Regions from separate parts of the Homo sapiens genome. Here region 2 is linked to region 1. Evidence: fine-mapped expression QTL. Tissue or cell type: whole blood. Region 1 holds a variant in brackets; the other region holds the start of a gene. All regions are shown on one strand. Distances are from middle to middle.

What was found. PIP is the estimated chance that this variant, and not a neighbour inherited with it, causes the effect.
Region 2: OMG starts here. The variant in region 1 is fine-mapped to the expression of OMG in whole blood (TOPMed, PIP above 0.99).

Annotation. Positions count from the first base shown.
Region 1 is chr17:31,096,300-31,104,408 of GRCh38, forward strand. The region is part of intron 1 of NF1 (neurofibromin 1); the gene reads left to right. Among named protein-coding and RNA genes, the nearest start is that of MIR4733HG, 4.9 kb to the left of the region's middle. RefSeq lists a silencer at 7,364-7,545. The variant G/A (reference allele first, on the strand shown) is at 4,729.
Region 2 is chr17:31,293,348-31,301,456 of GRCh38, forward strand. It overlaps OMG (oligodendrocyte myelin glycoprotein), which reads right to left and starts at 3,892. Exons shown (of 2, transcript NM_002544.5): 1 at 3,809-3,892; 2 at 1,300-2,990. The coding sequence starts at 2,984. The coding sequence ends at 1,662. The region is part of intron 36 of NF1 (neurofibromin 1); the gene reads left to right.

The sequences.
Region 1 (8,109 bases):
CTAGTGTTTGTGGTTGTTTTTGACTCTCTCCTGGTTGACAAGAGAACTTTCATTGAGAATATTTGGGATGAAAAAAAAGTTTTGTAGCTTGAGGAGGTGACTTTTTATCGCCTGAGTTTCACACAATAAATCCTGGGGCTGATTAGAATAAATGCACACATAGCCTTTTGTCAGTGGAAATTGGTTTAACTTTGTGTTGCTGTAGGTAGTTGGGGATGGTTTAAGGGATGCTTTCTGCAGCTGTGGGTGCAGTGGGCTTCCTGTGATGGGGGAATTGTTTAAGATTGAGTCAACCTATTTTGTTTACTGGATATAATGGTAAAACATTATGGGAGCTGAAGGGGTGGGGGAAGAGCTCTTCTGTTATTTGATGCATAAACATTTCTTTACGGGACTCAGCGTTTCAGACCTACCTGGAAAATATCTTGGAATAGACAGAGGAAGTTGAGAAGAAGCTATGTAGATAAAATAGAGTTATGAAGCTGTCAGAGACTTGAAGGAATTGTTTTATCCATTCGTATGCTTCCAGACCCAAAGGCATCTAAACTAAACTACTAATCCATCTGAAGTATAATGTTACTGCATATAAAAGATTACATTATTGATAGAGCGTTAGATTTAAAACTTGGTAGAAAAGACTCTGTAATTTTAAGAAAGGATTTAAAAGGCACATAGAAGACTTCCAAAGCTGAACCTTGTGGACAGCAGAATCTGGATGTAGGAAATTGAAGGATCCACGCCGCAATTCTCCTTAAATTTTAAAAATTAAAAATTTTTTTCAGTTTTTTCTTAATTTTATTTTTTTACTTCTTACCTGTTCATCTCTAGGCTTATTTGCCATATTGGAAAAAGATACTTAAGAGAGGAATGATTTTGGGCTGGGCGCGGTGGCTCACGCCTGTAATCCCAGCACTTTGGGATGCCAAGGCAGGTGGATCACCTGAGGTCAGGAGTTTGAGACCAGCCTGACCAACATGGAGAAACCTCGTCTCTACTAAAAATACAAAAATTAGCTGGGCATGGTGGCGGGCGCCTGTAATCCCAGCTACTCGGGAGGCTGAGGCAGGAGAATTGCTTGAATCCGGGAGGTGGAGGTTGCAGTGAGCTGAGATCACACCACTGCACTCTAGCCTGGGCGACAGAGCGAGACTCTTGTCTCCAAAAAAAAAAAAAAAAAAAAAGGAGGAATGATTTTGATTATATACCCAGTAAAGCAAGAAAGTGTTTCTCCTTCTGTCCCTAGCTTTAAAAGACCTTAAGGCTTCGTTGTTTGTTATGCATATTGTGGAATCAAACTCACCACCATCTGTTAAAAATTAAGGACATTAGTTTTTAAAACAGCATTTTTCTGCATTCCTTATGTTGTAATTAAGAGAAAGATATATAGGAGAGATTATTCCTCACTTTTTTTTTTTGAGACAAGGTCTTGCTCTGTCGCCCACGCTGGAGTGCAGTAGCTTGATGTCGGTTCATTGCAACCCCTGCTTCCCACATTCACGTGATTCTCCTGCTTCAGTCTCCCAAGTAGCTGGGATTACAGGTGTGCACCATCGTGCCTGGCTAATTTTTGTATTTTTAGTAGAGACGGGGGTTTCACCATGTTGGTCAGGCTGGTCTTGAACTCCTGACCTCAGGTGATCTGCCCCCCACCCCCTGCTCGGCCTCCCGAAGTGCTGGGATTACAGGCATGAGCCACTGTGCCTGGCCTATTCCTCACATTTTTCTCTTAGAAAGTTAAAGTCTCTGACCTTGAGATACAAAAATGTAAGGGTTTTCAGTGTTTAACATAAGGTACTTATATATATTATATATAGTATATATATAAAATAAATTAATATATTAATTTATTATATAAGTGATAAATGTTTAATTCAAATTAGAGTTCACCTTACGGTTGAAAATGTCTTTTAGTCAGAAAACTGAGGCATGGGAAGGTTAAGTGACATAGATCTAATAAGAGCTTCAGTATGAAAAGTAGTGAATGCTTGACCATCAGGGAGATACTTTTCCTAAGTATCCCATAAAATTTGTTCTAATCCATTAAATATATTTAGAAGACTTTATTTTATTTTTTTTATTTTTGAGACGGAGTTTCATGATTCTTGCCTAGGCTGGAGTGCAATGATGCGACCTTGGCTTACTGCAACCTCTGCCTCCTGGGTTCAAGTGATTCTCCTGCCTCAGCCTCCCAAGTGGCTGGGATTACAGGCGCCTGCCACCACTCCTGGATAACATTTGTTATTTTTAGTAGAGTGCTGAGATTACAGGCGTGAGCCATCGCTTACATTTTTATTGAGGGGAGAAAAAGCCCTGCATGTACTGAGAGATAGTTGTATAAGAATCTTAAGAGTTGGCCGGGCGCGGCGGCTCACGCCTGTGATCCCAGCACTTTGGGAGGCCGAGGCGGGCCGATCATGAGGTCAGGAGATCGAGACCATCCTGGCTAACACAGTGAAACCCCATCTCTACTAAAAATACAAAAATTAGCTGGGTGTGGTGGTGGGTGCCTGTAGTCCCAGCTACTTGGGAGGCTGAGGCAGGAGAATGGCCTGAACCTGGGAGGTGGAGCTTGCGGTGAGCCGAGATTGCGCCACTGCACTCCAGCCTGGGTGACAGAGCGAGACTCCATCTCAGAAAAAAAAAAAAAAAAAAAGAATCTTAATAGTTTCAACTGTTTATAAAACTTTTGAATTTTGGATTATATTATCTGTACTTTGCTTTACTGGGCCCAGGGGGAGTTAAGCTTTCCTTCTTATTACAGCTAAGAGTTTGCCTGTTGGACCACTTAACGCCCCCAGGGAGCATGTGCATGTCTAAAGATGGCAACTCTGTTTATGATTGCTGTTTTGGTTGGATTTCTAATATTCGGTGTGATTAAAGCAGAAATGCATTTCTAGCCACTGCTGATTACAGACATATTGCACTCTGATGGGTATCGCTTAGCAACTTAGTGCAGTAGACTCAGTTAAAAGAAGTGGATGTGTGCCATATTGACATTTTGAGCTCACATTCTTGTGGGTAATATAAAATTCCTTAACCTGATAATATTGCAGCTAAACCTAGTATTTAGGGTCTAAGTTGAATGAGTATTACCAATTTTAGAAGTAATCACCTCCTTGGTTAGGGAAATGACAGTTGCACAGGTGGACAGCCAGAAAGCTGAATGTTATCAGTTAAATCTTACATCTCTCCTTAACCTGCCTTCGTGGTGCCAAATAGCAAGTTTCTAATTGAAACTGACAAATTGTAGGTGTGTAGCTTTTTTTTTTTTTTTTTTGAGACAGAGTTTCGCTCTTGTCTCCTAGGCTGGAGTGCAATGGGGAGATCTCAGCATACTGCAACCTCTGCCTCCTGGGTTCAAGCCATTCTCCTGCCTCAGCCTCCCAAGTAGCTGGGATTACAGGCGCCCACCACCACGCCTGCCTAATTTTTGTATTTTTAGTAGAGACGGGGGTTTCACCGTGTTGGCCAGGCTGGTCTCCAACTCCTGGCTTCAGGTGATCCACCTGCCTTGGCCTCCCAAAGTGCTGGGATTACAGGCGTGAGCCACCACGCCCGGCCATGTGTAGCTTTTAATTGTGGTTCATTAACCCAGTTTCTAAGCAAATTAGAACCTTCTGTGTATCTCCCCTAGTTCTGTATGCCCCACTGGTTCCTGTAGAGCTTTATTTCTGAAGGGAAGTATGGGAAAACTATGGATATTTGAACTAAAAAAAAAAAAAAAAGAATTAAAAAGAACTCCATCCCAAAATGATTTGTTGTAAATATGTTCATTTAAAGCAATTATATTTTCCATATCTGATCAAGCAAAAGTAGTACATAAAAGCCAAAAAACCCAATTTAAAGAATATGTTATGGAATAAACTCTGATTTTAGAGGTTGTAGTAGCATATTTGTTGTTCTCATACATTGAGTGTTCATCTGAATGTACGTTGAATATGCGGTGAGTGATTCACAGTATAAAATGATTGGCAAGTATCTTCGAAATTACAAACCACATACTGATTAGACAAATAGATTTGCAAAACTGAAGCTTTTTGGATTTAAAAAATATCTCCTAGCCTCATTCTTCAAGCCTGGTGTGTAATTTTTATAAGGCCTTATAGTAGTTGAAAATGAGTACTCTTTTATGGTGACGAATTCTTTATGGTGAGTGAGAAATAATGCTTATTCTTCCAATTTTAGTATATGTGGTGCTGAATCGAGCACAATAATGCTTATTCTTTGCTTCGGAATTTTTTAATTTATTATTATTGTTATTTTAAATTTTTATTTATTTATTTATTTTGAGATGGAGTCTCACTCTGTCGCCCAGGCTGGAGTGCAGTGGCGCGATCTCAGCTCACTGCAACGTCTGCCTCCTGGGTTCAAGCGATTCTCCTGCCTCAGCCTCCCAAGTAGCTGGGACTACAGGCGCATGCCACCACGCCCAGCTAATTTTGTATTTTTAGTAGAGACAGGGTTTCACCGTGCTAGCCAGGATGGGTCTGAATTTCTTGATGTCGTGATCCACCTGCCTTGACTTCCCAAAGTGCTGGGATTACAGGCATGAGCCACCGTGCCCGGCCCGGAATTCATCCTTTAGAAAGATTTCTTCCAGCTGTTCCTCAGTTCTCTGCACTCCCTTACACTTTCCACCTTATCTGTCTGGGAACTAATTTAGTCTTTATGTTGGCTGCTTTCTTTTCACTTTTCAGGCTAAGATTTCCTTTCTCTTGGAAATCAGAC[G/A]TTTACTTGGTCCTGCAGCTCTCTCTCTGTGGACCAGTCTTTTTTGTTGTTGTTGTTGCCAGATACTCACCGCCTCTACTGTTTATCCACCCATTTCCTTTATAACTCTGAAAAGTAGCTCCTGCCTCTGCTTGATTGCTGTTTTCTTGAAAGTGATTACTTCTGGCAAAACATAGTGGTCATTGCTTAGTTGTAATGCCACTGTGATGTTCCACTCCCCCCGGAAACCAATCTCTTCCAGTTCCCAAGACACAATACTTTTCTACTGAATTGGAGTTCCTTAGCGGGGGTCTTAGTTTTGTTCTGCTATTCAGTGCCTTTGTCCCTATCCTAGCCATTAGCTTTCCTATAGATCCTTGATTTCCTCATCTGTTGAAAAAGAAATGGCTAGAAAATCTTTTAGATTCTTTCAAGTTTAAATATTCGATGATTTTAATATTCTAACAGCATGTCTCTGTGACCCAGCAGTCTATTGGGAGCTGACCCCACTTGATTTACCAAACTCTTTCCCATTATGCCTCTGCATGCACCTATGTTCCAGGCAGGTCACCTCAGTCTCTTCTGTGTGTATCATGCTTCTTCCCACTTCTTGGCCTTTATTTCTGCCAGTCTCTGCCTGAATGCTTTAATTCCTCCTTTGTGCTTTTCTAATTCCTGTCCATCCTTCAATGTTCAGCTCAGATTTCATTTTTTTTTTTTCCCCATGAGGTTGTTTCAGACTAAACTCTGCTATCTCACTTCTTGGTATCCTTGTTACCTGGAGTTTTACAGAACCACACAGTAAGTTTTCTTCCTTTAGGAGGATTGTTTGAACACAGCTTGGCTTTGTTTTCTTTTTTTCTTGTCTTTTTATCAAATGGAGTGCATACTTTCTGAAAAGCAAAGAACGCTATTTGAATTCTCTTCTAGTCACCCCAGTGCCCAGCACAGTCTTAAACACACAGAACATTGATGGAATGTTTTTCATATGATTCCTGGTTGAAGGGTAGACTGGCTAAATAAAAAAAGTGGTACTTTTGGCTTTGTTTTACTGAATTTTACTTCCATGTTTGCAATAGCCTAGGTCTGATAAGTGATATTTTAACTAGGAATGAGTAAGAAAATTAGCATAAAGAAGGAATTTATACATATTTATATTTCCTCCCATAGAGCAAACATGTTTTTTGAATCAGGTTTCAGATCTGATCAACTACTTTTGTAATTTTGGATTTGTCACTTACTGTTAGGATATTTTGCAATGGTGTGATAGAATATGAATGTGAAGCACTTTGAAAAGTCTAAAATTTTTCTAATATAAGATTTATATGTTTTCTTTATAGCTTATTATTATTATTATTTTTTGTGTGTGTGACAGAGTCTTGCTCTGTCACTCAGGCTAGAGTGCAGTGTAGCTTATTACTGATTATTGTGTTTTCATTAAATAAGGGAGAGTAGGCCAGGTGCGGTAGCTGATGCTTGTAATCCCAGCACTTTGGGAGGCCCATGTGGGAGGACTGCTTGAGGCCTTGAATTCAAGACCAGGCTGTGCAACATAGTGAGATGCTGTCTCTAAAAAAAATTAGTTGGGTGTGGTGGCATGTGCCTGTAGTCGCAGCTACTCAGGAGGCTGAGGCAGGAAGATCACTTGAACCCAGGAGTTCAAGCATACAGTGAGCCATGATTGTGCCACTGTACTCCAGCTTCGGTGACAGAGTGAGACCCTGTCTTCCAAAAAAAAAAAAAGAGAGCGTGACTAGTCTCTGGATATTCCTTTGTATGTACCTTGGCCAATATATACCTTACTTTAGTATCCATTGACAAGTTCTCTTTTTTCTTCTTCTTCATTTTTTTTTTTTTGAGATAGAGTCTCGCTCTATTGCCCAGGTTGGAGTGCAGTGGCACGATCTCAGCTCACTGCAAGCTCCACCTTCTGGGTTCAAGCGATTCTCCTGCCTCAGCCTCCCAAGTAGCTGGCATTACAGGCACGTACTACCACACCTGGCTAATTTTTGTATTTTTAAAAGAGACAAGGGTTCGCCATGTTAGCTGGTCTCAAACTACTGACCTCAAACAATCCACCTGCCTCAGCCTCCCAAAGTGCTGGGATTATAGGCATAAGCTGTGGTGCTGGTCTAATATTGTTACATTTTATTTTAAATGTTCCTGTTTTTTGCCCTACTCTTTTTATTTGACTTTTTAACCATTAGGAAATTAGATTCTTTTCTCAAATCTGCTTTATTATTATTATTATTTTGAGACAAGTTCTCGCTTTCTCGCCTAGGCTGGAGTGTAGTGGTACAATTTTGGCTCACTGCAACCTCTGCCTCCCGGGTTCAAGTGATTCTCCTGCCTCAGCCTCCCAAGTAGCTGGGATTACAGGCGTGTGCCACCACACCCAGCTAATTTTTTTGTATTTTTAGTAGAGGCAGGGTTTTACCATGTTGGCTAGGCTGGTCTTGAACTCCTGACCTGAGGTGATCCGCCCGCTTCAGCCTCCCAAAGTGCTGGGATCACAGGCTTGAACCACCGTGCCTGGCCCTATTTTTGTATTTTTACTATAGACGGGGTTTTGCCATGTTGGCCAGGCTGGCCTCAAACACCTGCCTCAGCCTCCCAAAGTGCTGGGATTACAGATGCAAGCCACTGCACCTGGCCTTAAGTCTGCTTTTAAAAAATGTTTTGGCTGGGTGCGGTGGCTCATGCCTATAATTCAAGCTTTTTGGGGGGCTGAGGTGGGAGGATCACTTGGGCCTCAGAGTTTGAGACCAGCCTGGGCAACAGAGTGAGACCCCATCTCTACAAAAAGTAAAAAAAACAAATAAAAAAAAAATCAGCCAGTGTGCATTGGTTGAAAGTAAAGAAAAGAAAAAAAACAGACAAATTAGCCAAGTGTGGTAGTATATGCTACTTGGGAGGCTGAGTCAGGATTGCTTGAGCCCAGGAAATTAAGGCTGCAGTGAGGCATGATTGCACCACTGCACTCTGGCCTGGGTGAGACCCTGTCTCAAAAAAAATTTTTTTTTTTAATATGGAGAAAGTATTTTTGTTTTTCGTTTTTTATTTGGGTACCGGCCACTGCACCCAACCAAACATTTTGTCCTTAAACAAAAGTTTAAGTCATATAATACAGTAGTAAGAATGCCTTATTTTTTACATCTTTGTTCTTTAAATTACTCAGATTGCTATGGGGCATTTTTGTTGTAGCTTTCAAATTTGGTATTCTGGGGTTCTATGTAGACTCTATATTGTTGCATTCTAACGACATACTTTTAAGGATAAGCAGCGTATTAATTAAAAATGTGTTTTCCACTTGTGTTCCTTAGGTCTGCGTATATTTTGGAGGTGTGTGTGTATATAAGTCAAGGGACAGGAGGTATCGGAAGGCTCTAAAGGAAGTTTAAG
Region 2 (8,109 bases), 200 kb after region 1:
GAGATAGCTTCCGTATATAGAGAGGTAATGCATTTTAAAATCATTTAGGGGACTTTTTCAAATAATCCTGTTTCTTCATGGTGAGATTCCCTGACACAGTGAGCCAATCAGGTTTGCTAAGGCAGAAAATGTTCGAGAGCCACTGTACTAGACAGCATGAAAGATGACTGTTTTGTTGAAGCTTAATGGTAATTTTTCCATAATCCTGGTCCTTAAAAAGCAAAAAAAAGAACACATTAGAGTGTTGTTACTTTTCTCTCTCTCAATAGAAATGTTCCTAAACCAGCAAAGGAGGCTATCTGAATTTTTAAAAGTTTTTACGAAGGAACATAAAAATTCCTTTCTCTATCTTTTCCCACCTCTAGAAATGCTTGAAATGAGATTCTGCCTTACGTCTCACAAATTAAATACCACATTTGTGTCTCACCCATCTCAGTTATGCTGTCTTGCATTTTAATCAATCCTGTTTCAGGACTTCTTTTGCTGCCTTGTGGCTGTTTCTTATGTTTGTCACTAATTCATAAGTTGGCTAACTTTTATATTTGTAGAGAATTTCTCAGTGATTTTCTTCTAGTTGGAGTTCCAGTGTGGTTTGATTTGGAGTGTCAAGATCTCTGTCCCATGCCTAGCCTTAGTCCTCAGTCTGTTTTACTGGGTTCACCACCTGGTTGTAGTACCAAATGCCCTTTTCCCTTTCCCTCTCTCCTTCCTCACTTCCTCAGTACTGCCCAAGTTCGTCAGACCCAATGATTTTATTCTTAAGCTAATCTTATTTTTAATTTAGGTAATTCTGATTTCTGATTTGTAAAAGATAAATTTTCTTCTCCTTCATGTAGTAGGATTTTAATTTTGTAAATATTTAAATTCTCCATTAATGGTGTGTTAAATCTGCACTAAAACTGCTTCTTTACATGTTTTTAAATTTTTTCATTATGTTTTTAACACTTTTCTTACATGCAAAAAACACAACCGTTAAACTTTTCTTATTAAAATGCAAAGCCTAGTGTCTTCTAGCTTTTTGAAGAGCTTTTGTCCATTATATAATCTGTCAAGTAGCCAAGAGTTCCTCAGAAGCAGGACATCATTTAGATTTAAAACAATTATGGCTTGTCTGTAAAATAATGTTGTAGCATAACCATTCATGGGATGGCAGCTACGATTTTACTTCAGTAAAATATCCTTGGATACTACCGCCATTTTATTTACCTTAAAGATTTTACCAAGGTACCCTAGAACAAAAATGGTGAGGTCATTTTGATTCTGCTAAAGTTGGTATGACTGGAAAGCCAAATGACACAGTTATGAGCATAGACCTTTTATTTTCCAGATGTTTGACAGTGTAAACATACATAAAATACATATTAAAGTTTAGATGCTTTATATTTTGTGCAATAAATTGAAGCCTTAAAACATTTCATTTTTTTTATAAAAGAAACTCATTAGTTTACTTAATTAAGACAGTAAAATAGCAGCAAGTACCAAGACATTGTGCATTTCTTTTATTTAAGACAAGTTACTTCATTTACATCAGAGTTAGAAATGTTAAGACTGGCTTTCTTGAATACTTAAATATAGCTCGAATCACTGGTTAGATATGGACATATTTTCCCAACTGTACATCAGGGAGGAGTGCTTTCATTAGTTTCAGAAAATGCAGACCCTCAGACAGCCAGCATGACCACAACATTGAGCAATAAGAGAAATGAAGCATTTACTTTCCAAGCATTTGCCACAGAAGGTAATGGAGTCTTTACATTTGTGGTTGTCTCTTCCCTCCATAAGTTAAGGGTTGTGCTTTGTTGAGGCATTTCAGAGAAATTATTTGGCATGCCACTAGTGATACTTAGGGTCATGGGTGTTGGGGATGATTTTGTTGAGCTAGTGAGGCTTGTGTTTGTGACCATTCCATCTTGGAGATGAATAGTTAGAGTTGCAGCTGCTGCTTCATGTGAATTGATAGTCTCTGTGGATGTATCTTCTGGATAGGGCACAAAAGCCTTATCAGTGCTAGTAAAGGTGGTGTCTTTGCTTAGAGTGGCACCAAACGTTGTTTCCTTTGTTCGATATTGTTTGGGTATTTTGGTCACTTTGGGTTGAGTTACCACACTCAGAGAGTTAATGGTGTCCACTGTCTGCATCCCACTTACAGTGAATAAGCTTGAGGTAAATCCAGAAGGTGTGGGATACATGTTATGTTCCTTTAAAGATGATATTTGGGTAGAACATGGAGTCCCTATCACATGGGCTTTTGTTTCCATCATCCACTTCAGTAAGTAAGTAATGTTTTGTTTGTGGTCACATGACCACCTGTTATTGTAAAGGGTTATCTCTTGCAACTGAAAGAGTTGGTCAAAAGATTGGTCTGGAATGAATGTGAACTTATTGTTGTGCAGGTAAAGATGTGTGAGATTTGTCAGGTTTATTAATGTACCTGGAAGAATTTGTGTCAAAGAATTATTAGACAGGTCCACGATATGTAGTTTGGAGGGCATGTTGGTTGGAACTGTCCAAAGTTTGTTACTACTGAGGTTGAGAACCTCGAGACTTCTTAGTGTATTTTTAATGAGGACAACCTTTTCCAGCATGTTCTTAGAAACATCCAGATATTTAAGATTCCACTGATAAGCAGTATCAGATTTGTCAAGAAGTTTAATGTTGTTGTTAGCAGCAGACATGTTCCACAGAGACCGAGGTAAGTGAGCAGGCAGGCTTTCAAGCCTGTTGTTTGAAATGTCCAGGGTCCTCAGATTGGTATATTGGGTTAACTGGTTATGCAGATCAGTAAAGTGGTTATAAGACAGGTTTAAATGTATAATATTCTCTTGCAGTCCAGATGGTAATGTAGACAAGTTTCTGCCTGAACAGTCCACATGCCTGTGCCTCTCTGTGCATATACATTGGAGAGGACAAATGCATAAAATACCAGGTGTGAGAAACAGAAGGATGAACAGGCAGAGAGACATTTTCAATATCTGATATTCCATCAAAGCCTAGAAACAAACAGATACACCCTTCTTTTAATATGCAAATACAGTTTAGGCATCTGCATGGGTCAGTTAGCATTAGGCAAAATTTTCAATAAACCTCGTTGTTGTCGAGTCCTTTTATAATTGTTCCAGTGATTAAACTAACAAAGCTCCCCTTCATTTATAGTCCAAATGCTTAATCCTTCAATTGGGCTATGTGGTAGAGAGAGACTCTCTCCCTACTCTCTCCTGCATTTTCTCCTTTATTTTCTCTCTCCCTCCCCCCTTTTCTAACCATATTCTTTCTTATTTATCTTTCTAGAGCCTTAATATGATAAAATAGCATTCTTTGCAAATAAATAGTTGCAGTTGTAGGCTATTACTATTTTTGATGATATGCTTTCTTACTCAGATGAGAAAAAATGGCTGTCGTGTCTTTTTTTTTTAATCTCTGCAGTAATGTAATTCAATGTGTGTATATAGGGTAGATTTTATTTAGATATTAAAGCAGTTCTTCGAAATTTTATCTGTATGTTTTTAGGATAAATATATCTTTGTAAAAAGCACTTGAAAAATCCAGACCAACACAGTACCTATAAACCTCACATTTTATAAAGTGATTTTTTTCTGTATATTTCAGTGCCCATTTTAAAGGAAAACAATATGTATATTTACAGAGTGACTGAATGTATAAAAAATATCCCTCAACTGACACTGCAGCAAATTTCTGGTGCATGCACTTGCTATTGAATATATATTTAATCCTAACGTTGACTTTTTCTTAAAAGAAAAAGGAAAAAGATTCCAAAGTCAGCCTTTTACTGATTTAAATAACATCTTACCGTGGTGTCGTCTTCAACATCAGCATCTCATTTTCTCTGGGAAACTTAAAGGTCGTCTTGTTCTGTAGAGTCGGAACTGTTTCTGGCTGTGGGCTGTGCTTGCCTGCTCAGCTGCATTGTGTTGCTGTGAGCTGAAGCTCTGCAACCACCTGATCAGTACCACATAGGAGGACTGCAGAGCTGTCGCTGGTGCTGACTCAAATTTATGGCAAGAGGTGCACACGCAACAAAATGGACAATTTTTTAAAAAATTTGTGGCATCAAGCGTACCTATATATCTGATTTGCTATAGGATGGGATACCTTATGCATGAGAGTTGGCCCTTACTCCTTTCTATGTATTTGTCTGAGATTGGGTTCCATATTTTAACATTTGCCTCATTAAGAATCTGTGAATTTTTAAAATACCTCTACTCTTTATCCTTTTTACATGTTGAAAATAAATTTGACCTTCCTCATGGATAGTTTTCTATGATATTAGTCCCACTATTTTTTAACTCCTGCCTTTTTATATTCCTTTCTAAAATTGTATAATTTTCATGTCACTTTTTTAATATTATAAAAAATCTGTTTTATGACTTTTATGTCTTCCCCCAACATGGTGATTATTATGTTTAATCAGCTTTTCAAATTTATCAACCACTTAAGTGTTCCGTCTTCCCTTTTAGGATGTATAGAAGTACTGAAATACGATTATTTTTTCTTTATCTTTCTGATACAATGATCATTTGACCAAGGCTACACACAAGCCAGGATACATTTGGAAATTAGCATCTTATACTTCAGATTATCAGTTCCTATGTAAAATAAACATGTTTTATTTTATATATTTGGAGTTAAAGTTTTTTTTCTTTATGCAACCTTGGGTGGTAAGTGGATATGAGTATTGTTTTTTCCAAAGACATTTTTGGTGCTGTATGAATGACCATTTATTTGATTTTATGTTTTAAGAATAGCAGTATCAATTTAGGTGATTTCAGAGTGTTGCACATTTCATCTTTCTGGGAAAGTAGTTTATAGTTTTAAAATTACATGAAATGATATAAAAGGAAAATTTTTCATCATGAGTTTTATAAAGTGAGATCAGATTTATGATAAATTTTGCTCCACTCTTCAGTGGACTGCTTGTGTAAATCTGTTAAAACACAAATCTGATTTCCAGAATGGCAAGTTTAAAGAAAGCAAATAAAGTTACGGTATTTTCGTTACCAAGTGGCACCATTTAAAAACGAGTAATATTTAGCATGTTATGTGTAAGGAAAGTCTCTTTATGCCTTGTTACTAAATCGTTTGTTTTTCTCTAAATTATATTAGCATTATTTAGATTATACCACAAATAGAATTTGTTGTATTAAAATTTGAAGTTTATTTTCTTACAAGAGAAACTATACTCTAGGAGCCACCTTTTGTATAAAACTAATGTTCCTCGAAAAGTATCTGCATTTTAAGAGTCCGCAACATAGAAGTTTATTGTTGATTGGGTGCTTTATTGCCACTTTACTTTGAGGGTTCAGTTGAACTCTCAATTGGATTCTTACTGTGGATTTAGGAAACCAGCCATCAATCATAGTGCTTAAAATAATGTGTTAAAAATACTACATTCAGCAATATTGTGGAAATAGGGAATGCATTGACATTTAGAGTTCTATTTAAGCTCATATATACACTGCTGCACTTCTAAAGATGTGACTGAGGGTCAATTTACCGACCACTTAAATCTCTTAATTTTAGGAAACCTCATTAAGTCAGTGTAGAAGTAGAGTTATGCATTTTCATTACACTTAACAGTACTTTTGTTTGAAAGAAAAGACATGTTACTTCATTAATGGATTCAAATGAATTTGGGTTTAGGCTGTATCAAGTTTAGTTTCTGTTGTATATAATAGAAAATTCCAGTGCAATAGTAGTGGCAATGTTTCTCATTTCAAGTTTGGGACATACCAAATTGCTTCATATTATTCAAAGATTATTGTAAAATTCTCAAAAAGAAAAAGGGAGATCATTTCAATATATTTGAATTCTAACAATCTCTTACACTGGGTGCAGCACACCAGCATGGCACATGTATACATATGTAACTAACCTGCACGTTGTGCACATGTACCCTAAAACTTAAAGTATAATAAAAATAAATAAATAAATAAAAGAAATTCTCATGAAATAAAATAATACTGTATTACTGTTACTCAAAAAAAATATTTTTTAGAGGCATAAGTATGTGTTACAACTTATTTTAAATATTATTCAGACTCATTACATTTTCTATTAGGCTGTCTAGGTCAGTAATGATAGTTAGGCAACTTTTACATTCTAGATTAAGCAGTAAATTAATTTACGTATTCTTTTGTGTCCTAGGATATATTACCCCAACATTGTGAAAGGTATCACAAAGCATCTGCCAAGGAATAGCTATCCCACGCTAATCAGTGGTTTCAGTTTTCCATTATTATAGGTAACATTTGCTATGCTTGAGAGTCAGATATTGTTTATTTTTGGTAATATGGTTGGCTATTTAGACTGATTTTCCTGCTGAATACAACTGAGAGTACTCAATAAAGTACTTTAAAAGCATGAAAGAAATAACAACATAGAAATTACCAAGTCAAAATCCAAATGAATCAGTTTCTTTGCCCACCTCCCTACTCCTTTTTTTCTTTATGCCACTGGCTTGTTGCCAAAACTCAGTCAATTATTTCCTAAAATGTCTCTCATCTTGGAGTTTTCTCTTTGACTCTTTGGGAAGATTTAATTTGTTCTTCTGTCCCCCATATTTTCTATAAGTGATTCCTCATATCATTGACATAATTGCTCATTTGCATCATCTCACAATAATTTCAAAATAATACCAGTATTGATTGCTACAATTAGATTATAGACTACCGAATAAAGTTTAAAATTTGTTTGTAGCTCTGCTTGCTTTATTTTACTAAAAGTGTATAGTAAATTCTGTGTTCTAATGCAATGTGAAATAATTCTTTTCTGTGTATTTTTATATCACCAACTTGATATAAACTTTGTTTCAGTTTTCAGCTTTTCAGGATCACAAGTCAAAATTATATATATAACAATGTATATTCAGATAAATCTTGCTTCTCTGTCTTTTCCATCCTATTTCCTTCCTTCTGCTATTAGTAACTGTTTTTATTAGTTTTTCGTTGTATCATTAACATTTCTTTTTGAAAACCTAAAAAAAATGTAAGCATATGTATGGTATGTTCTTATCCCCCCTTCTAATATAAAAGGTGACATATATACATACTGTTAGATAACTTGTTCTTCTTTTCTTACTGTATCTTGAGTATCACTCCATATCAGTATATAGGTATCTGTATGATTCACTGTTTGATCCATAGTACTCCATTTGGGAATGTACCATGGCTTATTCAACCAGTCCCCTATTGGTGGACATCTGGGTTTTTCAGACTTTTGCTGTTACGAATAATGCCACAGTGAATACCCTTGTACCTAAATAATTTTATATGTTTGCCAGTAAATCTTTGAAAAAGATTCCTAGAAGTAGGATTGCTGGGTAAAAGGGTAAATGCATTTGGAATTTTTCCAGACATTACTAAATTCCTCTCCATTGATTATACCATTTTGCAGTCCCACCAACAGTGTATCATGGTGTCGAGTTCTATACAGCCTCACTGTATACTTTGTTGTTGAACTTTGGGATTTATTGTCCATCTGATAGGCAAGTATCTCCATCTAATTTTAAATGCATCTCTGTAATTATGAGGGGGAGTATATGTCTTTACATATGTTTAAAGACCATTTAAATGTTTTCTCCTGTAACTGTCTTTTTAATGTTTTGCACTATTAAAAGTTGTGTTTTGGGTCTTCCCCTTCCTGCCCCATATTAGGAGCATTTTAAATTTTAGAGGTATTAGCACTTTGTCTTGATTTAAGTTTTAATTTTTTTTTCCAGTTTGCCATTTGTCTTTTGGCTTTATTATGGTGAGGTGTGTGTGTCTGTGTGTAATGCGCACTTGCATGTGTGTGATATTTAAAAGTTTCATATAATTTGATTTCCCTTTTTATTGCCTCTGGATTTTGAGTCTCAGCTAGGAAGGTTTTTTCCCGCTTCCAGATTATAAAGGAATTTACTCATATTTTCTTCTATTACTTGTATAATTTCATGGTTTATATTTAGAACTCTGGTCCTTGGTGTTCCAATATAGTGTGAAGTATGGATCAAATTTTTTCTTTTTTCCAGATGTCTATCCAATTGTTCCAATGCTTGTTTCCACTGATTTGATATTTATTTCTGGACTTTTTCTTCTGTTCCATTGATCTGTTTGT